2 linked regions of the Homo sapiens genome follow. The protein of the gene in region 2 purifies or fractionates together with the protein of the main gene of each other region. This does not show direct contact. Each region holds a gene or a part of one and is shown on either strand. Other genes may lie near its edges.

Region 1 (3,500 bases), about 110 Mb from region 2:
TTCTGTAAAATAGAGGGTTGGCCTGGGTGATCTCTGAGGCTCTACCTATCTGATAATTCTATGGCCTATATTAATCTGAGCAGCAAGCCAACCGACCCCTGCCCCGAGGCCTCATCACAGTTAATATCCAATTCCCCATAACCCTGAGAGATGTCAGGACCTCAGCATCCTTCCTGAGCTGTTTCCTCACCCCCGGGACCTTCCAGGCTCTAATGGGGCTAACTACAGAGGCCCCTCCCTGTCCAGTCATAGACCTATTAAGTTGCATTGCTGAGGATGCCACAACTCAATGTTCCAGGCATTTCCAGGCCCCTGGAGCCTTCAACACTAGGGGTGGAAGGAAGGACACAGGAAGCCATGAGCTTGCTGGGAAGAGCAAAATATTGCCATTTCTTATTCCTTCTCAGGAATGTGGGCTGGGGAGCAGGGGGGCCCAGCCTACAGCCACTGGGAGAGTGACAGATGAGCTGTATGCCATTGTCTGTTTTGGGAATGTGCTGCTGCAGCAGGGGCTCTGGCCTTACATATTTAATATTTAATTCACTTCTTTGAGCCCAGGAAGAGTTATGCTGAGCTGTTTCCTCAAGGAAAGGATCAGGGGCCTGGAACCTTTAGGGACATCCTGAGAGAAGCAAGATATTAGAGGCAGGGCCGTTAGATTGAAGCCCTCCCTAGGAGGGAGGGAATCCAGTGTTTGCTTACCTGGTCAATCTGCCATTGATTTTGCTAAGAAGACCCCCCACCTCCCTGAAAGCTGGAAGGCAACAAAGGCTAAGAAGGGAGGAAAATGCAATAACACACTTCGGCTGCCTGAGGGATGGGGTGAAGGTTTCCGTTGTTGGGAACTGACCAGTTTCCCTCAGTGAGATCCTTGGATCTAAGGCAGTATGGGGCACAGATGATAGAACGGCCAAGAGATCAGGGCGGCCAGCACCAGAATTCTTGCACCAGAGGCATAGCCCACAAAATATCACAGTCTTAGAGTTGGCAGGAGCTTTGGAAAACTGAGACCTGGACTTGCCCAGGGCCACACAGGTGAGTTGAGGAGAGCCTAGCCCCTTTATATATGGAAGAGCCCAGCCTCTTTCCACTGCTTGAGTCCTAATGTTACCTGTGCTACTTGATAATCAGAGTAATTCATTTTTATATAAGGCGTTGACATCTTAATCTCATTCGATCCTCCCAACAACCCCAAGGGGTGGGTACTATTATTTCCATTCAACAGTTATGAAAACTAAGGCTGGGGAGGTGGAGTGAGTGTCTTATCAGCTCGTGACCCTGGGTGATAGGCAGCAGAGCCAGGACTGGAACCCAGGTCTTCTGATGCCCCCAGCCCTGTGCTCTTTCCAAGGCATCTCAGATTCCTCCATGTTTGCTCACTGTGTGACTCAGGGCAACCGCCTTTCCCTCTCCAGCCCTCAGGCTTCCATTCACCTAATGAGGAGGAGAAGCCTGACCTTGCTCCCTGGGGAGTGGGTGAAACAGTCACTATGTACCAGGTGTTCAGATGGAAGCAAAGGGGGAGGAGTGCCTGGGAAATTCCACAACAGGAATGATTCCATACCCTGTGACTTCTCATCACACTCAGCCTAGGACAATCAGCAGCCAGCAACCCAAAATGGAACCTAGACAGAGGACCCAAGTTCCCCATAGCCCCAAGGCACCGCCTGGTTCAGTGTCGGATGTTTCTAGGCTGGTGGAAACAATTTGAGGGCTCTTGAGGAATCTACAGGGTAAAGAGGGGAGGAGCATGTTAGAGATACCAACCCCAGTCCTGCCTATTTCCCAGGGTTGAGGATTAAATGAGATCATTAGCACGAGGGCATTTAAAATAAGTTGAAAGCACCAAATACATGGAAGGCATTAGCAGCTATGGGGTGGCTTCTGTCCACCAAGCTGGGGTCCAGTGATCTCCAGGACAGACATCTTTGTTGTTAGCTTGACTTCTTCTTTACCCTGCCATCCCAGCTGCCTTGCCATAACCCTGCAGCTTGCTGGGAGTAGAGCCAGGCAGGAGAGGTCTAGGAGATTTCAGAAGGCAGGCTCCCCATCTGCAGCTCACTCCTGTCCCCCCTTTCTGAGTTATGGCATCAACTCCGCTTCTTCCCTGACCAGCTCCCATTCCCTTCTTCCAGTTCATGCCACCCTCTGGGGGCAGCTAAGTGGTAGTTGATGCGACCCAGTGCCCTCATTCACTCTCTCTGACTCATCTCATAGTCTGTCTCGCCAGCTCTCCCTGCCTGCCACCTCCCAGGCTCCCTGTTCTCTTTGTTCTCCCCTCACTGTGCACAAACACCATGCCTGTCTCCTTGGAATCTCATTTCATCCCTCCTTTCATGTTTACTGTGGGCCTCAGGGGATGTTCGGGTGTGCAAATGTGTGAGAGTTTGTGATTGTGATCAGTGTCCTGTTTATCAGTAATCATTAGCAATTTATACTTATGTAGTGTCTGGGGGAGGGAGGGTGTGGGCGGGAAATGCTGGTGGGAGCTTGATAACATACTAGGCCTGTGAGGTAGGAGGAATAGGTAACATCACAGACCCACAATGCACAGTGAAAACTTCAAATATTTGGTACTGCGCAGTGAAAACCCAAATATTTGTGCGCAGTATACATACTGCAGTGAGGACAGGTGAACACACGTAGATTGGTTGGGAGAAGGCCTACTTTATTCAAATGTAATCATGCAAGACAATTTTTAAATGACTGCTTTAATTTTGAAATTAACTTTTTTTTTGAGATGGAGTTTCGTTCTTGTTGCTGAGGCTGGAGTGCAATGGCACGATCTCAGCTCATTGCAACCCTGCCTCCCGGGTTCAAGGGATTCTCCTGCCTCATCCTCCCTAGTAGCTGGGATTACAGGTGCCCACCACCATGCCCAGCTAATTTTTTGTATTTTTAGTAGAGACGGGGTTTCATGAGGTTGGCAAGGCTGGTCTCGATCTCCTGACCTTGTGATTTGCCCACCTCAGCCTTCCAAAGTGCTGGGATTACAGGCATGAGCCACTGCATCTGGCTTAGTTAATTTTTTCAAGGAGTTGGACTAGATGATTCCTAAAACTTTGATTTTAGCTACTTAAAGGAAAAAAAGAGTGTTTGTGTACAGATGATACAGAATGCAGGCACGAATTGAAGACAGAAACAACAGCATCGGATGTGATCCCCAATAAGAAGGTCTGGAGGGAGAAGAGCTGGGGTTCTTGGCTGGAGCCCACTCTCTCTGTGGTGAATGTAGAAAAGAGAACCTGCAGAAGCAGCCCCGGAAGCCAGAGGGATGCGGTCATAAGGAGGAATGCGAACTGTGTTGAAATTGTATTGTCCCTTTTGTGGGTCCTGCTTTCTCCCACCCCTCAGCAGGGGGATTAACCATAAATGCAAGAGAGAATGTTTCAAGCCTGAGCGACAACAGTAACAGTAATAATAATGACATTTACTGAGCACTTGCTTTGTGCCAAGTGCTATCCTATATACAGATTATCTCGTTTATTCCACATGAGCAC
Region 2 (4,079 bases):
ATGAGCCAGGAAAGACAGCCAGGCATCACATCAAGAATATCCCCGTCTTCATGGTCAGAAGTCTGGCATCAAGGGCCTTCAACCACAGTGAAGAAGAATTTAAAGCCAATCAGCACAGTAATGTGGTAATTTTGCCAACCAAGTCCTGAGGCTTGGGTGTTTGCAACAGGAAAATGGATATTTAATTCATTCATTTATTTAGCATAATACATTGAATAACTACTCTGTGCTTAGTGCTGTAGCTATAAGAAGTATTATATAGCAAGCAGCCCTTGCTTTCGACGGAAAGAGGTATTTAACAACATGGCAAAGAGCTCCAGATCCCAGGGCAAAAAATGGCACAAGATACCATGACAGTCGAAACAAGTGAATCACCACTTGGACCAGGAGAGTCCAGGAAGGCCCCCCGCCCCTAGGTAGGAATGTCAGGGACAAGGAAGGCTCCAGAGAGAAGGGTAATGGACGGGTGTATGCGATCTAGCTGAATACTGGAAACTGAGGTCCAGGCTTCAGTGAGAGAATGAAGTGGGAAGGAGGAATCAATGAAAAAGTGAAGAGAAGGTTCCACTGGAGAGAGGGGCCCAAAAGAGGAAAAGCAAAGCAAGCTGTGGCCATAAGAAGAAGTCTGAGACTTGGAAGTAAAGCACAAACACTGAGTATCAGAGTTGGGAATCACCTCAGGTATCCCAGCCTGTACCCAGTGCAAAATGCCTTCTGAACTATTTCAACTGCTGAGGCTGCTCCATTTGCTTTTAGGCCATTATCTGTAAAATAATCACAGAGTTCTCTTTGGTTTGCTAGTGAAAACAATGAGGAACAGACACCTTAAGAAATGTAACGAGAGCCAAAGACAAAACGGGAATGTTCTCTCTTTGCCAGACCACCTTCATCTGTACACCTGCACATAGCCCTGTTCCTACAAGAAGGCATAGGAACCGCGTGTGGGTCCCATTTCTTTTTCAATATTTAAGAACTTGAGAAGTGGGACACATGCTGGAATGAACACAGGAAGCTCAGTTTCTAGTTGTAGCTTTGCCACCATCTTACTGGGTGCTCTTGGACAATCACTTCTCTTCCTTGTGCCCCAAGTTTTCTTCTGTGAAAGGATAAACTTTGATGAATAGTTTGAAATCTGTTTTAGCAGCAAGTCCCTTATTTTAAGCAAAGAATTGCAAAGAGCACTGAGCTCTAATACACAAAACATATCTAAGCCTAATGTGTTCTGATGGAAAAAAATGGAGCTGACAAAGAGGCAGGATGTTACCCACCTTAGGACTCCCTGGAAAACAGTCAAATATTTTGAGGCCTTTTGACACTGGCTTCTCACAATTCTGAGACTAGAGACAAGGAAAAGGTAGTGAAGGCTGTCACCATGTTTCTGGGCTGGTGACAGAGCAGCTGAATTCAGGAGCAAGCCAGGCTCCTGAGTGAGTCATGGGGTTCACATGCGGAGCTAACAGGCTAACAGCCACTTCTTGCCAATCCGTGCAGCGGGCTGGGCTGTCAGGTCTAGAGGGCAGGAATCAGCTGGGATTTGCTACTGGTTGCAAGAGGCTGAACTGCAGGCACTGAGGAGCAGAGCTGGTAGCTTGAAGGACAGAAAGACAATTTTTCACTGGGCTCTTAAGCAGAACTCCCGGGTGGCAACAGAGAATAGCTCACGGGCCAGCCGGTGCAGGTGGGATAAGAGGTTCCTGTCCAGGCTGGCGGCATACATGAAGCTCACTCTTCCTATTTAAATCCCAGAGAATATCTGGAGAGTTTTAAAGAGCCCTGAGGCAGGCAAAAGAGAACATGTGGATTTTGTATACCGATCTAGCTCAGTGTCAAAGTTTGCCTTTTTCAGTAGTACATTAACTTGGGTTCCAACTCAGAAGACAAGTCAGAACATTGAACATTTCTCCAGATACTCAATGTGAAAAGAATCCAAATAGAAACAGTTTCAATTTCAAAATATTTTTTGATACATACACATTCCTGAGGATGAATGAGCCTGTGTGTGTGTGTGTGTGTGTGTGTGTGTGTGTGTGTGTGTGTTTGGGGAGAGAGTGTAGGTAGGAGGGGACGAGAGACCATAAACATCAACATCCACACACTAGAAATCCATAAACCACAGAAAGAATCAGAGACAAAAAGTGGGTTCTCCCTGCAGTGTACCAGTTCATGAAAAAGTAGCCTTCATAGTTGTCTGCTAAACTTTCTAGATCAGCCTAATAGTTTTTTGGTTGGTTGTATCTCTTTAAAAAACAAAAACAAAACAAATGAAAAACCAAACCTGACCTCCCTGCAGAGGCAAATGAGGATTAGCCATTCAGTATCTCCTTATCATCTGCATCCTGGTATTTGTTCTCAGAGACAAGGGGTCCTCTACCCCTAATTCCAGTCCACTTTAGGGCCCTATAGTTACTTAGAACAAACGCATACTTGCTGTGACAGCCGAAAGAGCCTGGAGAAATATGTAAACATCATCATCTCACTTTAGAAGGAAAACAAGCTGTATAAATAAGAAAAACTGTTACAAGAGTTTAAAAAAAAAATCCCAACAGTCTTACTTGTAGTTAGCTCTTCAGTCAACACATATCACAGTCCTGGAGACAGACACAGGAACTACAACTCTCTCCAGCTAAAAATTTCCTCCCGCGGTTGGTTATCCTCTGTTTATTTTTGAAGCATTCAAAGGCCACGCTAACAGAACAGACTCGGTTTTCCTGAACATCCACAGCGGCTGGGAAGTCCTGCCGTGAATGCGGAGCAAGTTTGCGGAGACTTGCTCCCTGGGCTGCGGCTCCGTAGTTGCTTCGAGCTTGTAAATACAAGCTCCGTGGACAAAGTCCCAAATGACATCACTGGCAGCTGCTTATTGTTGAGTCTTTATTAACTGACTGTCAAAAAGAAAGGAGGGGGTGGGGAGGAAGAGTATCTCTTCTGCAGCAAAATCGGCATCTTGGAGTGGATTCCAGTTATACATGCGTAAATAATCCCATTGATTCACATTTTTGAGAGGATGGCTTCTTTCAGGTCTGAAAAAGACAGAGAATCGCCTCCACCAGCTTACACTGGAATAGCTGGAGACCTGGAGGAAAAGTTTGAAGTGCCAGCACAGCCCTACCAAATTGTTTACCCACCTGTTTCGAGTCAACTTCAGAGCCTGATGATTCATGAATATATGAATACTGGTTGTGTCTTACATTGCTTAATTACTTTTACTGTGATATATACACCTGGCCGACATTTTTCCTAGATAGATTGTCTTGGGTGCAACTCCTTTTAGATACATTCTAGTGTCTCAGCTTGGAGTAGAAGGAAGGGATCCTTGAAATCACAGCAACATTTTGTGTGCATTTGCAAATATGCAATTTTTCTTTTCCTGAGAAGAGTGCTGGAGGCTTTCTTCTGATTCTTAAAATTTTAACCACCCACCTGCACCACCCCCGACACTCCAAAAAACAAATAAATAAGAATCTGTGCCAAGTCTTTCTAATAATCTCACAGAACACTGTAAATCCCACTCACAACTATCAAAATAAAAGTGGGCCTTTTCTCCCCTATTTTCCACTCTCTCATGGAATCTCTCTTCTGTCCGTTGGTTCTTATAGTTTTTACAGTTATCTCCCCTCCAACCCCTAGCCCCCACCTAGAGAAATTCCACAGATCCAACACCTAGTCTCTGCCACGAAGCGCGAACACTCCAGCCCACTGTTTTCCTTCCTTCCTCTGGACTGCTATAACGATGCTTACTATTTATATTTACTTGCTGCTTTTTATATACTGACTAGTATTTTTAGTTTGTTTTTTAGCCATCTGTGTTCTGTCTCCCCAACTCAGTTTGAAAGGTCTTTGAGGGCTGCCTTGTAAGTGTTATTTGTTTATACCTAAATCACTTGCCATAGTGAATCCTAAACAGAAATGTGGGAGGTGGGGGGTGAGCATTGAGGGTGGAGGCAGGAACAAGGTTAGCTGATTCTGTGGCATGGAGTGTATGTTTAGATTAAGCTCTCTCCCTGGCCTTGGAAAACAATGACCTCACATCTCACTACCCCCAGCAGATGCTCATTGCATGTCTGAAAATTATTTCCTCA

Evidence for each region.
Region 1: the proteins of NCKAP5 (region 2) and KIF3C purify together in Homo sapiens (affinity purification with mass spectrometry; one large-scale study listed by BioGRID and IntAct). This does not show direct contact.

The regions. Positions count from the first base shown.
Region 1 is NC_000002.12:25,975,998-25,979,497, reverse strand, and holds part of KIF3C (kinesin-like protein KIF3C), read left to right. Parts: intron 1-3,500.
Region 2 is NC_000002.12:133,565,664-133,569,742, forward strand, and holds the start of NCKAP5 (nck-associated protein 5), read right to left. Parts: upstream 2,801-4,079; 5' UTR 2,553-2,800; intron 2,419-2,552; exon of another isoform or gene 2,281-2,418; intron 1-2,280.